5 separate regions of the Homo sapiens genome follow, and regions 2, 3, 4 and 5 are each linked to region 1. The links come from fine-mapping of genetic effects on plasma protein levels. A gene starts in region 1. Each other region holds a variant in brackets. All regions are shown on one strand. Distances are between the middles of the regions. Region 1 holds the start of CCL16 (C-C motif chemokine ligand 16). Region 2 has its middle 45 kb from the start of SLFN11. Region 3 has its middle 13 kb from the start of SLFN11. Region 4 has its middle 23 kb from the start of TBC1D3F. Region 5 has its middle 56 kb from the start of SLFN5.

The links. PIP is the posterior inclusion probability: the model's chance that the variant is causal. Protein levels are from antibody-based Olink assays in UK Biobank. Linkage for the fine-mapping came from a reference panel and not from the study's own genotypes, which makes the PIPs less certain.
Region 2: its variant is fine-mapped to the plasma level of the CCL16 protein (UK Biobank, PIP above 0.99).
Region 3: its variant is fine-mapped to the plasma level of the CCL16 protein (UK Biobank, PIP above 0.99).
Region 4: its variant is fine-mapped to the plasma level of the CCL16 protein (UK Biobank, PIP above 0.99).
Region 5: its variant is fine-mapped to the plasma level of the CCL16 protein (UK Biobank, PIP above 0.99).

What each region holds. Positions count from the first base shown.
Region 1 is chr17:35,979,419-35,984,418 of GRCh38, reverse strand. CCL16 (C-C motif chemokine ligand 16) reads left to right here and starts at 2,922. Exons shown (of 3, transcript NM_004590.4): 1 at 2,922-3,074. The coding sequence starts at 2,999. It overlaps CCL14 (C-C motif chemokine ligand 14), which reads left to right. Exons shown (of 3, transcript NM_032963.4): 2 at 1-81; 3 at 531-1,131. The coding sequence ends at 618. CCL15-CCL14 (CCL15-CCL14 readthrough (NMD candidate)) reads left to right here. Exons shown (of 7, transcript NR_027922.3): 6 at 1-81; 7 at 531-763. RefSeq lists a silencer at 2,112-2,407 and an enhancer at 2,112-2,407.
Region 2 is chr17:35,325,931-35,331,057 of GRCh38, reverse strand. No RefSeq gene overlaps it. Among named protein-coding and RNA genes, the nearest start is that of SLFN11, 45 kb to the left of the region's middle. The variant A/G (reference allele first, on the strand shown) is at 1,923.
Region 3 is chr17:35,383,975-35,389,101 of GRCh38, reverse strand. No RefSeq gene overlaps it. Among named protein-coding and RNA genes, the nearest start is that of SLFN11, 13 kb to the right of the region's middle. The variant G/T (reference allele first, on the strand shown) is at 2,799.
Region 4 is chr17:36,459,567-36,464,693 of GRCh38, reverse strand. No RefSeq gene overlaps it. Among named protein-coding and RNA genes, the nearest start is that of TBC1D3F, 23 kb to the right of the region's middle. The variant G/C (reference allele first, on the strand shown) is at 2,648.
Region 5 is chr17:35,296,510-35,301,636 of GRCh38, reverse strand. No RefSeq gene overlaps it. Among named protein-coding and RNA genes, the nearest start is that of SLFN5, 56 kb to the right of the region's middle. The variant G/T (reference allele first, on the strand shown) is at 2,575.

The sequences.
Region 1 (5,000 bases):
CTACACTACCTACAAGATCCCGCGTCAGCGGATTATGGATTACTATGAGACCAACAGCCAGTGCTCCAAGCCCGGAATTGTGTAGGTGGTACACACACATCACACTGGGGGGAGAGGGAGCCAGCAGGGCCTCCTGGAGGGAAGCAGGGAGTGGTGGTGGAATGGGGACCCCCAGCGTACCTCCCAGGTGTGACTACATGGGGAGAGGCAGCTGAGGGGCAATCTGAGCGCTTTCTGGCTGGAGCCTGCAGGAGCCATGGGGAAACTGACCCCATGGATGGGGAGATGACAGAGAAGGGAGAAGAAGGCAAGAGGGCACTTCCTCAGGGGGACACAGAGACTAGATGGGTCTAGGGGTCCTAGGAACCGAAGAGTATGTCTCAGAGAGGAGACTGGCTCTAAGCTGCCTCTGTGGAAGAAAGGAAAAGCAGTATAGGTCAGGTGGGGAATTTAGGAGGGAGGGAAGATGGGCTGTCTCTTCCGGCCACTGGGCCCCTCGGTTTGTGATCCTTCTCCCTCTTGCTCCACAGCTTCATCACCAAAAGGGGCCATTCCGTCTGTACCAACCCCAGTGACAAGTGGGTCCAGGACTATATCAAGGACATGAAGGAGAACTGAGTGACCCAGAAGGGGTGGCGAAGGCACAGCTCAGAGACATAAAGAGAAGATGCCAAGGCCCCCTCCTCCACCCACCGCTAACTCTCAGCCCCAGTCACCCTCTTGGAGCTTCCCTGCTTTGAATTAAAGACCACTCATGCTCTTCCCTGGCCTCATTCCTTTCTACGGGATTTACTCATTGGCCATGCACTGAGGACACCAGGGTGTGGCACCCTCGGCATCAAGCCTCGCTCTGCAGAAGTTTTGCTGGAGCCTGGTACAAAAAATAGGTCAGGCCTGCAATGCAGGTAGTGAGAAGCAGAAAGTGAGAAAGAAAAGCAGTGTAAAGACCGTCTCCTCCTCAGCAACAACAGTAGCAGACCCCGTTTTCTTAATGCTTTCTATACTCCAAGCACTCTGCTAGGCAGTCTGTATGCATTATCTTATTTAAGCTTCATGACAAGTGTAAAAGCTACAAATCATCATTTGATTTTTTAGGTAACACTTCATAAAGGGCTCTCTATAGCAGTCAAACTCCATAGTCCTTTTTTCTGTGCTGTTTTCAAGGCCTTTCTTCACTGCTGTCTGGAATAGGAATGATGCATGAAGACATTTTATCCAACCCCTCCCCTTCGCTTACACACATCAGATTATACTATATTGTTTTACTAACTTTTTTATCCCCTAGAAGGCTTAGCAGAAAGCCTAGCCCATACCAGGTGTTCAGGAAATGGATGGATGGATGGATGGATGAAGGAAGGGAAGAATGTGTGGATGGAAGGATGAAGGGAAGGAGGAATGGATGGAGGGAGGGAAGCAGGGAGGGATGAAGGGAGGGAGGAAGGGAGGAAGGGAGGGAGGAAGGGAGGGAGGGATGGATGGATGGATGGAGAGAAAGAGGGAGGGAGGGATAGAGGGACAGATGGAATAAGACAGAAATCAAGAGGAGGACTATGCTCCAAGAATAAGCTCTCAAACCTATCTTCAGGGCCCAAGGAGGAGCTCTGTGTACTTGGAATAAGAGCTTGCCCAGAGTAGGGATTATGACCACCCTTTCCTGGCCTCCAGCCTTCCACAGATAAGGAAGGGCTTGTGGGCCACATTAAGGGCCATATGGGGGCCTGCATGCCAAAGTCACAACCAGGCTTCTCAGGCCTTGTCACCTCCATAAACAGAGGTCAAGAGGATGCCCCACATACGTACCCTCCCTGCCCTCACAAAAAGCCACAGCTTCACCACCAGGTGAAGCCTTGAACCCACCAGGAGTAACTGCATTATACGGTTTACCTATCTATGAGCAGTCATGCCAAGCAGAAAGCCCCATAAGGATCTGCACAGTCCCTGTTTCTGCCCCTGCCTCCCACTGCCCTCAACACCTGAAACACATCACCTATGCCTCTAAAGCTTGCTGTCCATCAACAGCAAAATCCCTTATATCTTTGATCTCTTCTCTAAATGCAGCTTTCAACATGGAAAAGGGTCCTGAGGCACCTGAAGAGAGAGGAAGCTGTGGGACAGGTCCAGCCAGAGCCCAGGCCAGAGGGGCAGAAGCTGGAGTCCTGGAGCACAGACGCAGGTTGTCAGGTGCACAGAGTTGGAGGGTCCCCTGCTGGTCATGGTTGGCCATGGGGGCACCCAGGAGGGATCAGCGAGCTGGCTACACCTAAAAATCAGTCCAAAGTCCGAGGTCCAAAGAGATAAATAAAAACATTGACAAATAAGTCAAACGGTCCAGCAACAAATGGGGACCCAAGGATCAGGCACATTGTTTTTTTTTTTTTTTGGAGTATTAGCATACACTGTGACAGGAAAGAGTGTGAGCTCAATCATGTGGCCTTGGACTGGGAGAGGGCATTTCCTTCTCAGAGGCAACTAAGCCCTACCTTTGCCTCAGTCTGGGCTCTGTAATCCTGCTTTGTGCTCATCTCCCCAAGACTGATCACCTGGGGGAAGCTGGGGTGGTTCAACCCTGCCTGCCCTTCCCCAACATACAGATGGTGGCAGGTAACATGGTGAAATCAAACAGATCTGGTTTTTCATCCGCCTATCCACCCAGGTGACCTTGGACAATTTATTTAGCCTCTAGGCCTCAGTAGTCCCAGGGAAGTAATAATCGCTATTCACTATTTTAAGGATTATATAAGATAGGGCATGTAAGGTAGCTGACACACATTCGCCCATTTCTTCACGTGAATTCAGATTCTACTGAATTCAGCTCTGCACCAAGTCCCATCCTCTGCTGCCCTCTGTTTCAGCAAACACTGAGGCCTGTTGTTTCTCCTCCTCTACCGGCTCTGATGCGGTCAAGGTCCAGAGAGCTGAGTAGTTGGCAAGCGGACCACCAGCAACAGACAACATCTTCATTCGGCTCTCCCTGAAGCTGTACTGCCTCGCTGAGAGGATGAAGGTCTCCGAGGCTGCCCTGTCTCTCCTTGTCCTCATCCTTATCATTACTTCGGCTTCTCGCAGCCAGCCAAGTGAGTCCACTTGTCTCTGTAGGGCAGGAACGAGAAAGGGGGATGGAGCAGCTGGCAGGGAGGTAGTGCCAAGGGCGCTGTCGGGTCTCTGGCCTCATAAGACCCTGTGGGCTCTCCCCACCTTCATGCATAGCTTCTGACCTCCAATTCTCCCCTTTGTAAGTAGAGCTGGGGTTGGTCCGGATCTTTCTGGGGTAAGTAGTTCCAGGAAACTGGGTCACCATTTCCTCAGGAGTCCCAAGCGTGGTGAGCAGGAATGATCATTCAGGAGGAGAGGCCAAGAAAGCAGCAGAAAATGCAACAAGAAGTGCATGCAATGAAAGGGAGGGGGAGGCACGCGGATGAGAAAGAAAAGTGGCAGGTGCCCTGGAAGAATGAGTGGCGAGAGGAAGGAAGGTTCAAACAATCATGTGGGTCTAAGTCCAGGAATTGGGAGTCTGAACCGAGAGAGCCCTTCCTCAACATGGCTGGCACAGGTTGCTGGGACTATCAGACAACCAAAATGAGTCCCAGTGGAATGGCTGCTTGGGAATCTATGGTCCCCTTCTCCATCCCCCAGCCTATGACTAAATAAAATCTGCAGAAAAGAGGAAAGGGGTTGAAAGGTTTTGGAGCTGTGGGGAAAGGGAGAATTGGGGCCTATGGAGGAGGGGGTTTGTTTTGCCCCTCCGTATCTCCTCCCTCTATCATTGTTTACGAGGACCTGGTGACGGGGGTGGGGAGGACAAAGACGTGTACCTGCCCTAGGCTGCCCCAGCCATTCTTTTCGCTTTTGTTTTTTTGTTTGTTTGCTTGTTGTGTTTTGTTTTGTTTTGTTTTGTTTGTGATGGAGTTTCGCTCTTGTTGCCCAGGTTGGAGCGCAGTGTCGCGATCTCGGCTCACCACAACCTCCGCCTCCCGAGTTCAAGTGATTCTCCTGCCTCAGCCTCCTGAGTAGCTGGGATCACAGGCACACACCACCACGCCCAGCTAATTTTTGTATTTTTAGTAGAGACGGGGTTTCACCATGTTGGTCAGGCTGGTCTCAAACTCCTGACCTCGTGATCTGCCCACCTCGGCCTCCCAAAGTGCTAGGATTACAGGTATGAGCCACCATGCCTGGCCTCTTTTCTCTCTTAAGGTCACCCTGGCATGTAGTCTGGCCTGACTCTGCCTGTGTAAACACAAAGGAGCAAGGGTCAAGTGCACCATGTAATCTGCCCACATACTCTCAGGATGACCCTGGTCTTTGTAAACTTTGCTTTGAGAACCAGTGATATGAGCATCACTTACAGAGGGACTGTGTGGGAGGGGGGAACAGTGCTCTTTGGGAGAGTCAATCAGGCCAGTGCAGTGGGTTCAGGCTTCAAGAAAGAGAAAATGGCCCACCCAAAGCATGGATCAGCAAGATGGTGCTCTCAAGATGTCCCAAGCTTTGCCACTCACTGGAGGCAAAGGGGTCAAGCTACAAAAAGATTTGCACTCTGAAGGTTTGGGGGCTGGGAGAGATCTCTGGACTGACCTCTTGTGTAGTATCCCCAATTGATGGGTAGTCAGGACAGCTCAAAGGAAACACAGTGACAATAACCAATCAAGTCCAGTATCCTGCATACATCAAAGAGATGGGGGGAAGCGCCATTTCCAAGGCAAGAAGAGCAGTCATTACTACCATTGGCTCTTAATTATAATAAGCACTGATTGAGCCTTTCTGTGTGCCAGGCTCTGAGTTAAGGGCTTTCCAATCATTTTCTCACCGAATTCTAACCATGATCCTAGGATACAAGTAAGTATCATTTACCCCCACTTAATAGATGAGGAAACTGAAACCTAGGGAGATTAAGAAATTTGCCCATGATTCAAGTCAAAATTCAAATCAAGTCAAAATTCCAACCCAAGCTGTCTGACCCCAAAGCCTAAATCATATACTTTTTCCTCCTGCTCTAACTT
Region 2 (5,127 bases), 650 kb after region 1:
AATGCTCACAGGAGGAAGCGGGAAAGATATGAAATAGACACCCTAACATCACAATTAAAAGAACTAAGATCAGAGTAGAAATTTAGAGAAGTGAGAGCAAACAAATTCAAAAGCTAGCAGAAGACAAGAAATAACTAAGAGCAGAGTAAAACTGAGGGAGATAGAGACATAAAAAAACCCTTCAAAAAGTCAATTATTCCAGGTGCTGGTTTTTTGAAAAAATTAACAAAATAGATAGATGGCTAGCCAGACTAATAAAGAAGAAAAGAGAGAAGAATCAAAACACAATAAAAAATGATAAAGGGGATATCACCACTGATCCCACAGAAATACAAATTACCATCTGAGAATACTATAAACACCTCTATGCAAATAAACTCAAAAATCTAGAAGAAATGGATAAATTCCTGGACACATACACCCTCCCAAGATTAAACCAAGAAGAAGTCAAATCCCTGAATAGACCAATAACAAGTACTGAAATTGAGGCAGTAATTAATAGTCTACCAATAAAAAAAAAAAAGCCCAGGACCAGACGGATTTACAGCCGAATTCCACCAGAGGTACAAAGAGGAGCTGGTGCCATTACTTCTGAAACTATTACAAACAAAACAGAAAGAAGGAATCCTCCTTAACTCATTTTATGAGGCCAGCATCATCCTGATACCAAAACCCGGCAGAGACACAACAAAAAAAGAAAATGTCAGGCCAATATCCCTGATGAACATTGAGGCTAAAATCCTCAATAAGATACTGGCAAACCAAATCCAGCAGCACATCAAAAAGCTTAACCACCACGATCAAGTCAGCTTTATACCTGGGATGCAAGGCTGGTTCAACATACACAAATCAATAATCGTAATCCATCACATAAACAGAATCAATGACAAAAACCACATGATTATCTCAAGAGATGCAGAAAAAGCCTTCGTTAAAACCCAACACCCCTTCATGCTAAAAACTCTCAATAAACTAGGTATTGATGGAACATATCTCAAAATAATAAGAGTTATTTATGACAAACCCACAGCCAATGTCATACTGAATGGGCAAAAGCTGGAAGCATTCCCTTTGAAAACCAGCACAAGACAAGGATGCTCTCTCACCACCCCTATTCAACATAGTGTTGGAAGTTCCGGCCAGGGCAATCATGCAAAAGAAATAAAGCGTATTCAAATAGGAAGAGAGGGAGTCAAACTGTTTCTGTTTGCAGATGACATAATTGTATATTTCAAAAAACCCATTGTCTCAGCCCAAAATATCCCTAAGCTGAAAAGCAAATTCAGCAAAGTCTCAGGACACAAAATCAATATGCAGAAATCACAAGCATTTCTACACACTGACAACAGGCAAACAGAGAGCAAAATCATGAGTGAACTTCCAATCACAACTGCTACAAAGAGAATAAAATACCTAGGGATATAACTTACAAGGGATGTGAAGGACCTCTTCAAGGAGAACTACAAACCACTGCTCAAGGAAATAAGAGAGGACACAAATGAATGGAAAAACATTCCATGCTCATGGATAGGAAGAATCAATATCATGAAAACGGCCATCCTGCCCAAAGTAATTTATAGTTTCAATGCTATCCCCATCAAGCTACTGTTGACTTTCTTCACAGAATTAGAAAAAACTACTTTAAATTTCATATGGAACCAAAAAAGAGCCCGTATAGCCAAGACAATCTTAAGCAAAAAGAACAAAACTGGAGGCATCAAGCTGCCCAACTTCAAACTATACTACAATTGCTACAGTAAGCAAAACAGCATGGTACTGCTACCAAAACAGATATATAGACCAATGGAACAGAACAGAGGCCTCAGAAATAATGTCACACATCTACAACCATCTGATCTTTGACAAATCTGACAAAAACAAGCAATGGGGAAAGGATTCCCTCTTTAATAAATGGTGTTGAG[A/G]AAACTGGCTAGCCATAAGCAGAAAACTGAAACTGGACCCCTTCCTTACACCTTATACAAAAAGTAACTCAAGATGGATTAAAGACTTAAACCCAATACCTAAAACCATAAAAACCCTGGAAGAAGTCCTAGGCAATATCATTCAGGACACAGGCATGGGCAAAGACTTCATGACTAAATCACCAAAAGCAATGGCAACAAAAGCGAAAATTGACAAATGAGATCTAATTAAACTAAAGAGCTTCTGCACAGCAAAAGAAACTATCATCATAGTGAACAGGCAACCTACAGAATGGGAGAAAATTTTTGCAATCTATCCATCTGACAAAGGGCTAATATCCAGAATCTACAAAAAACTTAAACAAATTTGCAAGAAAAAAACAAACGACCACATCAAAAAGTGGGCAAAGAATGTAAACAGGCACTCCTCAAAAGAAGACATTTATGCAGCTGACAAACATATGAAAAAAAGGTCATCATCACTGGGTCATTAGAGAAATGCAAATCAAAACCGCAATGTGATACCACCTCATGCCAGTTAGAATGGCGATCATTAAAAAGTCAGGAAACAACAGATGCTGGAGAGGATGTGGAGAAATAGGAACGCTTTCACACCGTTGGTGGGAGCATAAATTAGTTCAACCATTGTGGAAGACGGTGTGGCAATTCCTCAAGGATCTAGAACCAGAAATACCATTTGACCCAGCAATCCCATTACTAGGTATATACCCAAAACATTATAAATTATTCTACCATAAAGACACATGCACACGTATGTTTATTGCAGCACTGTTCACAATAGCAAAGACCTAGAACCAACCCAAATGCCATCAATGATAGCCTGGATAAAGAAAATGTGGCACATGTACACCATGGAATACTGTGCAGCCATAAAAAGGATGAGTTCATGTCCTTTGCAGGGATATGGATGAAGCTGGAAACCATCATTCTCAGCAAACTAACAGGAACAGAAAACCAAACATTACATGTTCTCACTCATAAGTGGGAGTTGAACAATGAGAACACATGGACACAGAGAGGGGAACATCACACAACGGGGCCTGTTAGGGGGTGGGGAGCTAGGGGAGGGATGTATTAGGAGAAATACCTAGTGTAGATGATGGGTTGATGGGTGCAGCAAACCACCATGGCACGTGTATACCTATGTAACAAACCTTCACATTCTGCACTTGTATCCCAGAACTTAAAGTATAATAATAAAAAAAAGCACAAAGAGGGACATTATATAATGATAAAAGGCTTTGTCCAACAGGAAACTATCACAATACTAGACATACATTCACCTAACACTGGAGGTCCCAAATTTATGAAACAATTACTAATAGATCTAAGAAATGAGATAGACAGCAACAAAGTAACACTGAGGAACTTCAATACTCCGCTGACAGCACTAGACAGGTCATTAAGACAGAAAGCCAACAAAGAAACAATGGATTTAAACTACACCCTGGAACAAATGGACTCAACATATATATACAGAACATTCCATGCAACAACTGCAGAATACACATTCTATTCAACAGCACATGGAACTTTCTCCAAGATAGACCATATGATAGCCACAAAATGAGCCTCAATAAATTTAAGAAAATTGAAATTATATCAAGCACTCTCTCAGGCCACAGTGGAATAAAACTGGAAATAAACTTCAAAAGGAACCTTCAAAACCATGGAAATTAAATAACCTGCTCTTGAATGAACATTGGGTCAAAAATGAAATCAAGATGAAAATTTAAAAAGTCTTCGAACTGAATGACAATAGTGACACAACCTATCAAAACCTCTGAGACACAGCAAAGGTGATGCTAAGAGGAAATTTCATCGTCCTAAATGCCTACATCAAAAAATCTGAAAGAGCACAGGCAATCTAAGGTCACACCTCAAGGAACAAGAGAAACAAGAACAAATCAAACCCAAACCCAGAAGAAAGGAAGGAAATAACCAAGATCAGAGCAGAACTAAATGAAATTAAAACAAAAAAATACAAAAGATAAATAAAACAAAAAGCTAGTTCTTTGAAAAGATAAATAAAATTGATATACCATTAGCAAGATTAACCAAGAAGAGAGAAAATCCAAATAAGCTCAGTAAGAAACGAAACGGAAGAGATTACAACTGACACCACAGAAATGTGAAAGATCATTCAAGGCTACTATGAACACCTTTGCATGCGTAAACTAGAAAACCTAGAAGAGATGGATAAATTCCTGGAAAGACACAACCCTCCTAGCTTAAATCAGGAAAAATTAGATGTCCTGAACAGACCAATAACAAGCAGTAAGATTGAAATGGTAATTTAAAAATTACCAACAAAAAAAAGGGTCCAGGACCAGACGGATTCACAGCAGAATTCTACCAGACATTCAAAGAAGAATTGGTAACAATCTTTTTGACACTATTCCACAAGACAGAGAAAGAGAGAACCCTTCCTAAGTCATTCTATGAACCTAGTATCTCCCTAATACCAAAACCAGGAAAGGACATAATCAAAAAGAAAACTACAGACCAATATCCATAAAGAACATTAGATGCTAAAATCCTTAACAAAATTCTAGCTAACCAAATTCAAGAACATATCAGAAAGATAATCCACCATGACCAAGTGGGTTTCATACCAGGGATGCAGGGATGGTTTAATATATGCAAGTCAATAAATGTGACACAGCTGGGTGCGATGGCTCACCCCTGTAATCCCAGCACTTTGGGAGGCCGAGGTGGGTGGATCACCTGAGGTTGAGAGTTCGAGACCAGCCTGACCAACATGGAGAAACCTCATCTCTACTAGAAAAAAATTACAAAATTAGCCAGGCATGGTGGTACATGCCTGTAATCCCAGCTACTCGGGAGGCTGAGGCAGGAGAATCGCTTGAACCCAGGAGGCAGAGGTTGCGGTGAGCCAAGATTGGGCCATTGCACTCCAGCCTGGGCAACAAGAGCAAAACTCTGTCTAAAAAAAAAAAAGTGATACATCACATAAACAAAATTAAAAACAAAAACCATGTGATCATCTCAATAGATGCAGAAAAAGCATTTGACAAAATCCAGCATCACTTTACTATTAAAACTCTCAGCAAAATTGGCATATAAGAGATATACCTCAATATATTAAAAGCCATCTATGACAAAGTCACAGCCAACATAATACCGAGTGGGGAAAAGTTGAAAGCATTCCCTCTGAGAACTG
Region 3 (5,127 bases), 600 kb after region 1:
GGAGTGCCAAGACAATCTACAGCCAGAACTCAAGTGGGAGAGGAGCTCACACTTTCAGAGCATTGAGAGAGAGCACAGCTGCAACTGTGAGGAAACACAAAAACCGCATAACCGAGCAAGAGTCTATTAACTGGCCAGTACGCTAAGCACCACCAACTGGACCACACCCCAAAGCTTCAGCACCAAAATACCTTGCTAACATACAATCCAGTCAAACCAAAGATAAGTCAGCTATACATAAAGACCCTGCACAAAGCCTTGACCTGTGAAAACATCCGGAAAAGAAGTCTTCTGAGTGTATTCAATCTACATCATAGTTAAAGGAACATCCACATGCAAAGATGAGAAAGAACCAACACAAGAACTCTGACAACTCAAATGGCCGGAGTATCTTATGTCCTCCAATCAACCACACTTAGTTCTCCAGCAAGGGTTTGTAACTAGGCTGAAATGGCAGAAGTATACTTTAGAACATGACAGGAACAAAGATCACTGAGATTGAGGAGACCAGCAAAACCCAATCTAATGAAACCAAGAATCACAATAAAACAGGAGCTGACAGATGAAATAGCCAGTATAATAAAGAATCTAACTGATCTGATAGAGCTGAAAAAACACACTACAATAATTTCACAATGCAGTGGCAAGTATTAACAGCAGAATAGACCAAGCTGAAGAAACAGTCTTGGAACTTGAAGACTGATTCTCTGAAATAAAGCAGTCAGACAAAAATAAAGAAAAAAGAATAAAAAGAAATGAATAAACCTCCCAGAAATATGAGATTATGTAAAGAGGCCAAATCTATGGGTCACTGGAATCCCTGAAAGGGGTGGGGAGAAAGCAAACAACTTGGAAAACATTTTTGAGAATATTGTCCAGGAAAACTTCCCTAACCTTGCTAGGGAGGCCAACAGTCAAATTCAGGAAATACAGAGAACCTCTGCAAGATTCTACACAAGAAGATTATCCCCAAGACCCATAATCATCAGGTTCCCCAAGAGAGAAATGAAAGAAAATATTTAAGGCAGCTAGAGGGAAAGCACAGGTCACCTCCAAAGGGAACCCCACCAGGCTAACAATGGACCTCTCAGAAGAAATCCTACAAGCCAGAAGAGATTGAGGGCCTGTATTTAACATTCTTAAAGAAAAAAATCTTCAACCAAGGGTTTAATATCCAGCCAAACTAAGCTTCCTCTGCAAAGAAGTAAGATCATTTGCATATAAGCAAATGTTGAGAGAGTTCATTACCACCAGACCTGCCTTAAAAGAGATCCTGAAAGGAGCACTAAATATGGAAAGGAGAGGCCATTACCAGCAAACAGAAAAACACATGTAAGTACTTAGACTAGTGACTCCATAAAGCAACCACACAAACAAGCCAGCATAATAACCAGCTAACAACACAATGACAGGATCAAATCTACACATATCAACTTGCTAACATACTAGCCTTGAATGTAAATGGGCTAAATGCCTCATTTAAGAGGCACAGGATGTCAAGCTGGATAAAAAAGCAAGAGCCAATGGTATTCTGTCTCCTGGACAACCATTTCTCAAGCACCCATTGGCTCAAAAAAAAAAAAAAAAAAAGGGATGGAGGAAAATCTACCAAGCAAATGGAAATCAGAAAAAAGCAGCAGTTGCAGCCCTAATATCAAACAAAACAGACTTCAAGCCAAAAAAGGTAAAAAAAATAAAAAAGAAGGGCATTACATAATGGTAAAGGGTTCAATTTAACTAGAAGACCTACCCATCCTAAATATATATGCAACCAACATAGGAGCATCCAGATTCATAAAGCAAGTTCTTAGAGACCTACAAAGAGACTTAGACTCCCACACAATAATAGTGGGAGACTTCAACATTCCACTGACAGTATTAGAAGATCATCAAGGCAGAAAATAAACAAAAATATTCAGGACCTGAACTCAATATTGGACCAAATGGATCTGATAGACCTCCACAGAACTCTCCACCCCAAAACAACAGAATATACACTTTTCTCATTGCTACGTGGCATGTACTCTATAACTGACCACCACACAATCAGACATAAAACAATCTATGACCAACTCACAGCCAATATCATACTGAATGGGCAAAAGCTGGAAGCATTCTCCTAGAAAACTTGCACAAGACAAGAAAGCCCTCTCTCACCACCCTTCTTCAAGATGGTATTGGAAGTCCTGGCCAGAGCAATCAGGCAAAGAAAGAAAGGGCATCCCAATAGCAAGACAGGAAGTCAAACTATCCCTGTTTGCAGATGACATAATTCTATGCCTAGAAAACCCCATAGTCTTGGCCTAAAAGCTCTCTTAGCTGATAAACAACTTCAGAAAAGTTTCAGGATACAAAACCAATGCACAAAAATCACTAGCATTTCAATACACCAACAACAGCCAAGATGAGAGGCACATCAGGAATGAAATCTCATTCACAATTGCCACCAAAAAATAAAATACCTAGGAATACACCTAACCAGGGAGGTGAAAGAGCTCTACAATGAGAATTACAAAACACTGCTTGAAGAAATCAGAGATGACACAAACAAATGTAAAAACATTCCATGCTCAAGAATTGAAAGAATCAGTATGATTAAAATGGCCATACTGCCCAAAGCAATTTACAGATTCAATGCTATTCCTATCCAACTACCAATGACATTTTTCACAGAACTAGAAAAAAAAACTTTAAAATTCATATCAAACTAAAAAAGAGCCCAAATGGCCAAAGCAGTCCTAAACAAAAAGAACAAAGCTGGAGGCATCACGTTACCCAACTTCAAACACTATTGTAGG[G/T]CTACAGTAACCAAAACAGCATGGACCTGGTACAAAAACAGACACACAGACCAATGGAACAGAGTAGATTCCAGAAATAATGCCATACACCTACAACCATCAGATATTTCACAAAGCTGATAAAAATAAGCAATGGGGAAAGGACTCCCTATTCAATAAATGGTCCTCGGATAACTGGCTAGCCATATATAGAAGATTGAAACTGGACCCTTTCCTTACACTATATACAAAAATCAACTCAAGAAGGATTAAAGACTTAAATGTAAAACCAAAACTATATAAACCCTGGAATACAACCTAGGCAACACCATTCTGGACATGGGAACTGGCAAAGATTTCCTGATGAAGATGCCAAAGGCAATCACAACAAAAGCAAAAATTGACAAAGGGGATCCAATTAAACCAAAGAGTTTCTGCACAGCGAGAGAAACTATCAACAGAGTGAACAGACAGCATAGAGAATGGAAGAAAATATTTGCAATCTATCCATCTAACAAAGGTCTAATATCTAGCATCTATAAGGAACTTAAACAAATTTACAAGAAAAAAACAACCCCATTAAAAAGTGGGCAGAGGACATGAACAGAAACTTTTGAAAAGAAGACACATTTGGCCATCAAGCAGATGAAAAAAATTCAATATTATTTGTCACTGGAGAAATGCAAATCAAAACCACAATGAGGGCCAGGCGCAGTGGCTCACACTGTAATTCCAGCTCTTTGGGAGGCTGAGGTGGGTGGATCACTTGAGGTCAGGAGTTCGAGACCAGCCTGGCCAACATAGTGAAACCCCATCTCTACCAAAAATACAAAAAATTAGCTGGGCATGGTGGTGCACGCCTGTAGTCCCAGCTACTCTGGAGGCTGAGACAGGAGAATTGCTTGAACTCAGGAGGCAGAGGTTGCAGTGAGCCAAGATCATGCCATTACATTCCAGCCTGGGTGACAGAGTGAGATCTATCTCAAAAAAACAAAAGCAAAAACAACATGATACCATCTCACACCAGTCAGAATGGCTATTATTAAAAAATCAAAAAATAACAGATGCTGGCGAGGTTATGGAGAAATGGGAACACTTATACACTTTTGGTGAGAGTGTATATTAGTTCAGCCATTGTGGAAAGCAGTGCGGCAATTCCTCAAAGAGCTAAAAACAGAACTACCATTTGACACAGCAATCCCATTACTGAGTATATACCCAAAGGAATATAAATCTTTCTACCATAAAGACACTGATGCGTATGTTCCTTGAAGCGCTATTCACAATAGCAAAGACATGGAATCAACCTAAATGCTCATCAATGGTAGACTGGACAAAGAAAATGTGATATATGTACACCATGGAATACAATGCTGCCATAAAAAAGAATGAGATCATGTCCTTTGCAGGATCATGAATGAAACTGAAGACCATTATCCTTAGCAAACTAATGCAGGAGCAAAAAACCAAATATGGCATGTTTTCACCTATAAGTGGGAACTAAATGATAAGAACAAATGGACACAAAGCGGGGAAGAACAGACACTGGGGCCTACTTGGGGCCTACTATAGCTGATGCTTTCTGGAAAGTGCAGCCTCCTGGAAGGAGGCCAACCACCACAAAAATAGAGCATTAAACCACCAAAGCTCAGGACCCTCATGGAGTCTGTTGCACCCTCTGCCACCTCCACCAGAACAGGCACTGGTGAGAGACCCATAGATGGTTCACATCACAGGATTCTGTGCAGACAAACCACAGTACCAGCTCAGAGCCGGGTAGACTTGCTGGGTGACTGGACCCAGAAGAGAGATAACAATCACTACAGCTCAGCTCTTAGGAAGCCACATCCTTAGGAAAATGGGGAGAGTACTATATCAAGGGATCACCCTGTGGGACAAAAGAATCTGAACAACAGCCTTCAGCCCTAGACCTTCCCTCTGACAGAGGCTACCAAAATGAGAAAGAACCAGAAAACCAACCCCAGTAATATGATGAAACAAGGCTCTTCAATACTCCCCAAAAATCACACTAGTTCACCAGCAATGGATCCAAACCAAGAAGAAATCCGATTTACCCAAAAAAAAAAAAAAAAAATTCAGGAGGTTAGTTATTGAGCTAATAAGGGAGGGACCAGAGAAAATCCCAGTGCAAGGAAATCCAAAAAATGCTAAAAGAAGTGAAGGGAGAAATATTCAAGGAAATAGATAGCTTAAAGAAAAAAAAATCAAAAATTCAGGAAACTTTGGACACACTTTTAGAATTGCAGAATGCTCTAAAAAGTCTCAGCAATAGAATTGACCAAGTAGATGAAAGAAATTCAGAGCTCACAGACAAGGTCTTTGTATTAAC
Region 4 (5,127 bases), 480 kb before region 1:
AGCCGTGGGGCTCTCCACTTTTCGGGGTGGGGAGGGGAAGCTGAGCAGGGCGCAGACCAGGGGCCTGCCACATGGCCTCTGCGCCAAAAGAGTAGAGCCCAGGATGAGGGGCCCCTAGCCAGGCAGACCCAGCCCAGGAGGTTTTGGGTCTTGGGGCCTTGGGTGTGGACTGGTCCTAGATGAGCCCGCCAGGTTGGGTGCCACCGGCCTTGACGGGTTCAGGAGATGGGACGTTATGTCTAGACGCCGCCACGCTTTATCGCAAGCCCGGGCCTCATCTAGACCCCAAGGGGCACCCCAACCTGTTTAGGGTTCCCGGGACTCGTGCGCTTGCCCGCCTAAGGCGGTAAATTGCCATCGTCTCCAAAGGCCGCCCCCACTTCGTCCGCTCCCCACCCGCCCCCAACCCCAGGCTCAGAACCCGCCAGAGCAATCCAGGCCCGTTCTCTAGGTCAGAAATGCCGGCCCTGGGGTCATTTGTCCCTGTAGGGAGAGCGCCACCCGCTTGCCCCGGGGCGCTGTCCAAGCCGCGGTGCTGAAGCGCTCCGGGCCCTGACTCAGCGAACACACAGTCGTCACCGCGTGCAGCCGCCACTCCCCAGCCTGGGCCCGCTCCAGGCCGCGCCCACACCGGCTAATCATCCGCCCGGATGCACGTCTGCCTCATCAGGCTTAAACTAGAATCGCCTCGGAGGTTGGAGATTCCTGAGGAGGCCCAGAAAGGGCCAATGCTTGTCCCGGGCCAGGCAGCTGGGAGAGTGTGGAGCTCCATTCCTGAGCTCCATCCCGGATCCCGCAAGCAGCGGCTCACTCTGCCTGCTCCAGACCCGTCCCCTCCAGTGAGCCCAGAGGAGGGTCCACTCACTCTCGAAGAACGCATTCTTCCCACTGGCATCCAAGCCCAGCAGACCCTGCTACCTATGGGGTGGTGGGGGGGAGCGCAGTCAGACAATCCCTGGAATTGGTCCCGCACACCGCCAGCAGTGAAGATGCCTCTCTCCCTTATTTCTGGATGCCCCCCACAGCTTCTATGGATGCCCACAACCCCTTCCTCCCTCCACCCTCAATGTCCAAGCAGGCAAAGAAGACCGGGTGTCCCCAGTGAAGGGCTCTGCAGTGAGGGGTCTAGAATCTTGCCCTTGAAGGAGTAAATGATATCCCTCGAGTTGAGCGTGATCATGATGGCATGATATTGGGCCAGGCACTAGTCCAGCAAAGAGAGGCCAGAAGAAGCAGCCAGATGGCAGTGCTGGTGCCCAGAACCATGACCTGTCTTGCCCCAGGCCCCCACGGGTGACTTCTTAGAGTCGGCCAAGGATCAGTGCAGGCCAGGAGAGAGATGAGATAATAGTCAAGGCAAAAGGGTTTTGAGAGGATGTTCCAGGGGAGCAGAGCTAGCTGCCAGCACTCATTTGGTAGATACAAATGTCGTGTCCTGGTCTCTGGTCTCGGCAGATGTGTTCAATAACTCACGTCTGGCATCTCCAACTGCTAGGCCGTTCCATTTCGAGCTGTGGAGAGCATTCTGGCTAGACCCCGTGAGCAGGGCCCCAGGGGACTGGGCTCTGTGTCAGGGATGAGTTCACACTATGGCAAAGAGCAGGTGGTGGCCTCAGGGCTGTTGAGCTGTCCCAGAACAGGATTCTTTTCTTTTCTTTCTTTCTTTCTTTCTTTCTTTCTTTCTTTCTTTCTTTCTTTCTTTTCTTTTCTTTCTCTTTCTTTCTTTCTCTTTCTTTCTTTCTTTCTTCCTTCCTTCCTTCCTTCCTTCCTTCCTTCCTTCCTTCCTTCCTTCCTTCCTTTCTTTCTTTCCTTTTTTGAGATGGAGTCTCACTCTGTCACCCAGGCTGGAGTGCAGTGGCATGATCTTGGCTCACTGCAACCTCCATCCCACGGATTCAAGTGATTCTCCTACCTCAGCCTCCCAAGTAGCTGGGATTACAGGTGCCCACCACCATGCCCAGCTAATTTTTGTGTTTTTAGATAGACATGGGGTTTCGCCATGTTGGCCAAGCTGGTCTGCAACTCCTGACATCAAGTGATCCACCTGCCTCAGCCTCCCAAAGTGCTGGGATTACAGGCGTGAGCCACCTCGCCCAGCCCAGAATCAGGATTCTTAAAATGATTGTGCTGCATACTGAATCATGTTGCTTTTGACTCTTGTAGCTGGCCCCCTTCCTTCTCTAGGGTGCCTGCTGGTACACCCTGGATGATGTCTGAGACAGATGGTGCTGCTCAGCCCCTTGAGGGGCTGCTCTGCCCCATGGTTGAGGTGGACTGTCAACCATGGGGCAGGAAGATCTAACTCCCCTCCCTCATGGTCCTCACATTGTGGGTCCCCTGGCAATAGATAATAACAAGTGTCACCATGGACATTAGAGTGACCCCAAGAGACAGAAAAGGTGGGTATTAGTGAACACATTAGGGGAGACAGAAGGGCAGAGAGGGCACGGGACAGTCACCAAGACTCCTAATGACTAACTTCTTCAAACTTCTCAGCAACATCCTCTTCCCTGTCCCCTGCTCTCCACCTCATCCATCAAGGAGCTGATGCTAATGGGGTTCCCTTGTTCAGAGCCAGACTGCTATGGTTACTATGGTAGTTAACAAACAGCCACTCCAGGCTCTTAACAAAGTAATCCTCCTGGAG[G/C]GACAGAAGAGGGCTTCTGTGGCCCGAGGACCAACATGTTACCTCTTGGCTGGCTTGGCAGCCATGGCAAGGACATGAACAGCATCCACTGAGGAAAGGAGACTGCTGGGCACACCGTGGGGAGGGGCAGGAGCCTGGAGGAAGTGCAGATGTCGGGATTTGGCTGCCGGCCACACCTGCTGGGCCCTCAGGTCGTGAGACACAAAGTGTTGCTTTACCTTCTCATTGCGGTAGCCAATCCAGAGCTGTGACAGCAGTTGTTGGGGAAGAATGTGAATCCAAACGCATTCAGCAAGCCTGCTAGAATGGGAAAAACCCAGGGGGCCCTGGGAGAGGGTCTCCCTGAAGCCCAGGGTGGCAAGGCTCCCGCCAAATAGAATAATTCAGCATCTGTATAAACCAGAATAATTCTACCACCTGGATGACCTACAGTAAGGCTGAGGAACATCACACTGGGCAGTGCACAGAGCAAATGCAACCCTCCATACACCACCTGGAATGGTCCCCGTTTCCCATTCTGCTCTCTCTGTGAGCCTAGAACAGATGCAAAGGCCCAGTGGAGGATGAGGGGCAGCCCCAGCGCACCAAGGCCTACTTTTGAGTCTGTATTTTCTGGTCCTGTGTCTCTTAGGAGTAGCCCCTTCTGCTGGAACTTCTGAGCAGCTTTTTAATGCCTCATCCCCAGACAGGAAGAGATAGTCAAAGATTGTTAGCCTTTTTGAGGCCAGATGTGGTGGCTCATACCTGTAATCCCAGCACTTTGGGAGGCCGAGGCAGAAGGATCACTTGAGGCTAAGAGTTCGAGACCAGCTTGGCCAACATGGTGAAACCCCATCTCTACCAAAAATACAAAAATTAGCCAGGCATGGTGGCAGTCCTGTAATCCCAGCTACTCGGGAGGCTGAGGCACAAGAATCACTTGAACCCAGGAGGTAGAGGTTGCAGTGAGCCAAGTTTGTGCCACTGCACTCCGGCCTGGGCGACAGAGCAAGACTGTCTCAAAAAGACAAAAACAGAAACAAAATCAATTTGATGGAAAGAAAGAACTAGTCTAAGAAAAAGAAAGAGCTTTTAGAATTTAAACTGTTTAGCCAGGTGCGGTGGCTCACACTTATAATCCCAGAGCTTCTGAAGGCTGAGGTAGGAGGATCTCTTGAGACCAGCCTGGGCAACAAGTGAGACCCCATCTCTTAAGAAAAATGTTTTAAATAATTTAAGCTGTTTAATAAAAATTCAGTAGGATTGGAGGATAAAGTTGAAAAAATCTCCCAGGAAGTTAGCTGGAGGTAGGGGAAGGAGAATTGGAGTAAAAGAAAAGGAAGGAAGGAAGGAGACGAAAAGAGTTAGTTGATTAACTTCGTATTAGTAGAAATTCTAGGAAGAGAAAACAATAGGGAGGAAATTATTATAACGAATTTTTGTAAATCCCCAGAATGGAAGAGCATATGTTTACCAGCTGAAGGAACTGATACCACATATCCACATAATGCGTGAAAAAAATACCATAGAAAGCACAGCACTGGCAATTTTGAAAAATGCCTACAGGATAAACAAAAGATCCTAAAACTTCTGGGGGAAAAGAAGTCCACCCCCTAGGGACTAGATATTGTCACAGCAACACCGGAAGAATACAGAAGTAAACTTCAAATGTTGGAGGGAAAACTATCTCCATATGGAAGTACATATCTAGTCAAAATATTGATCAAATGTAAGAGTAGAAAAAAGATATCATTAGATGTTCAGGGTCTGAAAACTTTACCTTCCATGTACCTCTGCCAGGAAACTTCCAGAGAATGTACCTCACAAACGTAAAGAAGTGAACTAAAATGCAGAAGCTGTGAGACTCAGAAAAATGGGATGTCATGGGGTGGGAGTGGAGTGCCTGGGGACCCCATAAATGAAGGGGCAGAAACACTCATGCATGACAATTCATAGCAGGAACACGAGGCAGCCAGCCCAAACAGAAGCGGGAGGTCTGAGAGCTCCAGAAAGCCTGGGAGATGCCCTGGTCATTTCCCTGTCCCACCCTCCTACCCCTGGTGCCTCACCCAGGGCTGGCAAAGGAAGGGAGCTCAACTCATATGTGGATGATGGCAGATCCAGCGCACAGGCACGAATGAGTTCATGATGAAAGTGAAGTGCCAGGGCATGAGAGTGAAGTGCCGGGCAGGCAGTTCCCTCTGAGCAGCTGTGCCACTACCACTTGACACACACTACATGCTCCTGCAGCAGCCCTGTTGCTGCCACCAGACGCCCACACCACCCCGGGAGCCTCTGTCCTCGCCCAGCCAGTCCTCAGCATTGTCCCTACCTCCATGGGAACAGATATGAGAGGGATGCTGGTGAGCGGCAAGCAGGCTGCTCCAGCAAACCCTCTTTCATAAGTAACCCAGTTAACTTCTGAGGTGCCCTGAGCATCTGCTATGCTTGGCACCAAGTGCTTTATATGTGTACTTTTTAATCCACTGGGAGGCCATTTT
Region 5 (5,127 bases), 680 kb after region 1:
CCTTTCTTTCAGAGATGCCCTGCCCAGAGATGAGGAATCTAGAGAGGCAGTCTAGCTACGGTAGCTTTGCTGAGCTGCAGTGGGCTCCACCAAGTTCAATTTCCCAGAGGCTTTGTTTACACTGTGAGGGGAAAACCACCTACTTAAACCTGAGTAGTGGTGGACCCCCCTCCCCCCACCAAGCTCACACATCCCAGGTCAACTTTAGACTGCTGTGCTGGCAGAGAGAATTTCAAGGCAGTGGATCTTAGCTTGCTGGGCTCCATGGGGGGTGGGATCTGCTGAGCTAGACCCCTTGGCTCCCTGGCTTCAGCCCCCTTTCCAGGGAAGTGAATGGTTCTATCTTGCTGGGTTCCAGGTGCCACTGGGGTATGAAAAAAACTCCTGCAGCTAGCTCAATGTCTGCCCAAATGGCTGCCTGGTTTTGTGCTTGAAATCCAGGGCCATGGTGGTGTAGGCACCCGAAGGAATTTCTTGGTCTGAAGGTTGCAAAGACCATGGGAATAGCATAGTATCTGGGCCAGAATGTACCATTCCTCATGGCCCAGTCCCTCATGGCTTCCCTTGGCTAGGGGTGGGAGTTCCCTGACCCCTTGTGCTTCCCAGAAGAGGCAACGCCCCATCCTGCTTTGGCTTACCCTCCATGGGCTGCACCCACTGTCCAACCAGTCCCAGTGAGATGAGCCATGTACCTCAGTTGGAAATGCAGAAATCACCTGACTTCTGCTCTGATCTCACTGGGAGCTGCAGACTAGAGCTGTTCCTATTCATCCATCTTGTCCATACTCTCCCTTTTATAAAATTTTTCATGACTTACACAGACAATCTCTGACATGCCTTGACTTTCTGACTTGTAAACATCCCTCTCCTTAAACAACCAGTTAATTTACTTTAGGACAAGAATTTACCATATAAGATTCTTTTTTATATAAATTTTCCTTTTCTTTTTTTTTTTTTGAGACAGAGTCTTGCTCTGTCACCCAGGCTGGAGTGCAGTGGCGCGATCTCAGCTCACTGCAATCTCTGCCTCCTGGGTTCATGCCATTCTCCTGCCTCAGCCTCCCGAGTAGCTGGGACTATGGGCACCTGCCACCACACCTGGCTAATTTTTTGTATTTTTAGTAGAGACGGGGTTTCACCATGTTAGCCAGGATGGTCTCAATCTCCTGACCTCGTGATCCACCTGCCTCGGCCTCCCAAAGTGCTGGGATTACAAGCGTGAGCCACTGTGCCTGGCCATAAATTCTTTTTTCTTTAATATCAAGATTAGAAGTTAGGGTATTTCACTAAATAGTTCAAGATGTAGCTATCTTTATTAAACCAATATTAATGTTTCATTGATTAAAAAATTACAGAAGCAAAGATTATTCTGTTTGGGCTGAGTTATAGTTTTGTGGCCTCTATGCAAAATTTTCACATCTTATAGTATTTGGCAGAGATAACTATGAAATTGCTTGATTAATAAATGCAAACAAAAATGTATGCTGGAAACTTTTAAGACATTTCTAATCTTACTGTACTAGTAAGTTTTAAAGATTAAAGTCACATGAACTGAAAGGTCCCACAGCTTTTACTTTTCTGTTAAAAATATTTGATTTAAGTGCTTATTTTTCTTAGGTCAATTAATTAGAGCTTTTTAAATAGGCATTGCACACATAACACATACATAGCCACACAGACAACCAGAAGAAGATCCAGTAATTAGAATTTTTTTTTTTTTTGCCCCTTTCCCAATTGGATCACTGGCCTTTGGGTGAGACCCTTTAAGAACAGGGCTATGAAAACAGTTTCCAGGGCCTAATAAACAAGCATAGCTGGAAGACAAAGACAGATTTTGAGAGGTACTTATTCATCTTTAATTCCAGGGGTTCCATAAGGAAAACAGATTTTTTCCCAAAACGGGATTTGTGGCAGCTTTTCTGTTTTCCCAAGGAGTCCCAGGCCACCAGAAGTCATTTTGGGATTTTTCATATATGCACCAAGAGTGGTAAGACAGAGTGGAGAAAAGTAATTCAGTTGACTGGGGAAAAAAACCTTTTCCAGGAAAACAAGATTTATGAAGAGAAAAACATAAAGGCCTTTTGAATATACTCATAGCTTGAATATTCATTTTAATTAAATTGAGAGCTGTTTTTCATCAGGGGTGAGGGTGGAGGTTAGAATTATATAAATATGCCATGTTAAATTAAAGGATTGGGTTATGTGCAGGAATTCCCTGCACTAGTCAGGGGGATTTTCAGAGAAAGATCCCAGGCACTGTTTGATCTGCGACAAATCAGATGTGGAGAAAGGGCATGAATGGGAGCAATGCCTTCAACCGCAGCCACTTCCTGGAGACGGAGAATGGCAGGGTGGTTTGACTGGTTGGAGCAGTTTTTGAATGGGTAACAGATGGAGAAGGAGAAGGAGCAGGGTTTGGAGCTGAAAGCTTGCGGGCAGGAGGCGTCACTGAAGTGGAGGATTCAGATAGGTTGAGGAGCAGATGCAGGGGGATAAGAATATGGAGGGGGTTCATCTGCAGGGTCAAAGGGGTTTTGGAGGAAGGAGTTTCAGAGAAAGGAGAGACCTGGGGAA[G/T]GTTATCATTAAGAAGAAAGACTTCATGAGGGGTGCAAGTTTGACACAGGGAGGGTTGGGATCTAAAGTAAAAGAAAGCCTGAATATAGGGAACCTCCTGCCATTTGCTGTTCCTAGTTATAAAGTTGTCAAGGTCCCTGAGAATTTGAAAGTCAAAGGTGCCATTTTCAGGCTACCAGCTGTCATTATCTAATTTGTATTGGGGCCAGGCCATGTTGCAATAAAAAAGCATACTCTTTGGCTTTATGCTTCCTTTAAGCCAAGCTTAGCAACATTGTGAAGGAGACAGCCCAATGGAGAGGACTTAGGAAAGTGGGATTGTTTGGCACCCATGTGGACTGGTAAGAGGAAGCTGAAGGTGTCTGTTTTTGTTCTAGGCATCCACAGATAAAAGACAGAAACCTGGAATCCTCTTTATAAAGAGGATGATCAAGCTGCGAAGAAACTGGGCATCTCCAAGATTTCTTCTAGCTTAGTCCCACTGGTCCTCTGAGGACCGGGACAGCTGACCTGACTCTCCCAGGTGCTGTGAGAAAGTCAGGAGAGGGCAGATCTTACTAGTCAGCTGGATTAGTGTCCGATGTTGGATGTTCTGATTGGAATTGGCAAAGGGCCCCTTGGACTAGAGCTTCACAAGGAAGAGAGGGAGAGAGAGACAGAGAGAGAGAGAGAGAGAGAGAGAGAGAGAGAAGAGGATGAGGGAGGAGGGAAGAGAGCAAAATACCCATTGTGGGCAGCCAGAGGTGGATTCCTAAGACCTGAGGGCTTTGAGGGTTCACTGGAGATTTGCCCCAGCCTGAGCCTCACAGTCCCCTTCAGGTTAGTTGTCCTCCTCAGACAAATTGCTAGAAAAGTGAAGTGAGAGACAAGACAAGATGGGTGGCCAGAGACTCTCAGGATCCAGCAGGATGAGCAGCTGCTGTCCACTGCTTTTTGGGTTGCAGGAGAACCTCTACCCCCAGCACCCATCCTGAGTTTTGGCAGCAAATGTAAGAGTTAAAGAAAGAGGAAAGAAACACGAAAAGTGACTCACCAGTCAAAGACAGGTTTATTTTGGAGAATAAACCTGAGAGGGGCTTCTGGCTGATTTTGGTCAGGAGCACACTCTCTTACAGATTAAGCGTATTTGTTGATTTTAGGGTGAGAGAGCTTATCATAGGCTTGGAATGTTTCTTTGTGGGGAAGAAGTTTATTGTGGGTTTGGAATGTCTCTGGTAGGAGGGGAGGTTGTCTTGGGGCTGACATCTCTCTGGGGAGGGGTTTATCTTATGGTTGAAATGTTTCTGGTCAGAGATGTCATTTATGGTTTATGGTCATGCTGGCCTTAGCCTTTAGGCTGATGCCCTGTGGATTTAGGTGGTTTTTGATTAAGGGGAACTTTAGAATGGTGGTGTTTGTCCAAGATGGTGATGCTCCTGTTCTGTCAAAGTCCCTAGGCTGCACACAGCACAGGGATCCTCTGTCCAGCCCAGGAAACTACTTTTTCCTCCTGGGCCTCCAGACCTGTGATGGGAGGGGCTGCTGTGAAGGTCTCTGACATGGCCTAAAGACATTTTCCCCATGGTCTTGGGGATTAACAGTAGGCTCCTCACTGCTTATGCAAATTTCTGCAGCTGGCTTGAATTTCTCCCCAGAAAATGGGGTTTTCTTTTCTATTGCATAGTCAGGTTGCAAACTTTCCAAACTTTTATGCTCTGCTTCTGTTATGAAATTGAATGCCTTTAACAAGTCACCTCTTGAATGCTTTGCTGCTTAGAAATTTCTTCCACCAGATACCCTAAATCATCTTTCTCAAGTTCAAAGTTTTACAAATTTCTAGGGCAGGGGCAAAATGCCACCAGCCTCTTTGCTAAAACATAACAAGATCCACCTTTACTCCAGTTCCCAACAAGCTCCTCATCTCCATCTGAGACCACCTCAGCCTAGACCTTATTGTCCATATCACTATCAGCATTTTGGTCAAAGCCATTCAACAAGTCTCTAGGAAGTTCCAAACTTTCCCACATTTTCCTGTCTTCCTCTGGGGCTTCCAAACTGTTCCAACTTCTGCCTGTTACCCAGCTCCAAAATCACTTTCACATTTTCTGGTATCTTTTCAGCAATACCCCTCTACTGGTAACAATTTACTATATTAGTCTGTTTTCATGCTGCTGATAAAGACATACCCAAGACTGGGAAGAAAAGGAGGTTTATTGGGACAGTTCCACATGGCTGGGGAAATCTCAGAATCATGGCGGGAAGTGAAGGCACTTCTTACATGGTGGTGGCAAGAGAAAATGAGCTAGAAGCAAATGAGGAAACCCCTGATAATCCCATCAGATCTCATGAGACTTATTCACTATCATGAGAATAGCATGGGAAAAGACGGCCTCCATCATTAAACTACCTCTCCCTGGGTCCCTCCCATAACATGTGGGAATTCCGGGAGATACAATTCAAGCTCAGATTTGGATGGGGACACAGCCAAACCATATCAATGACTGTACTAATTTACATTTCCTCCAACAGTGTACAAGAGTTTTCTTTTTTCCTCATCCTCTCCAACACTTGTTT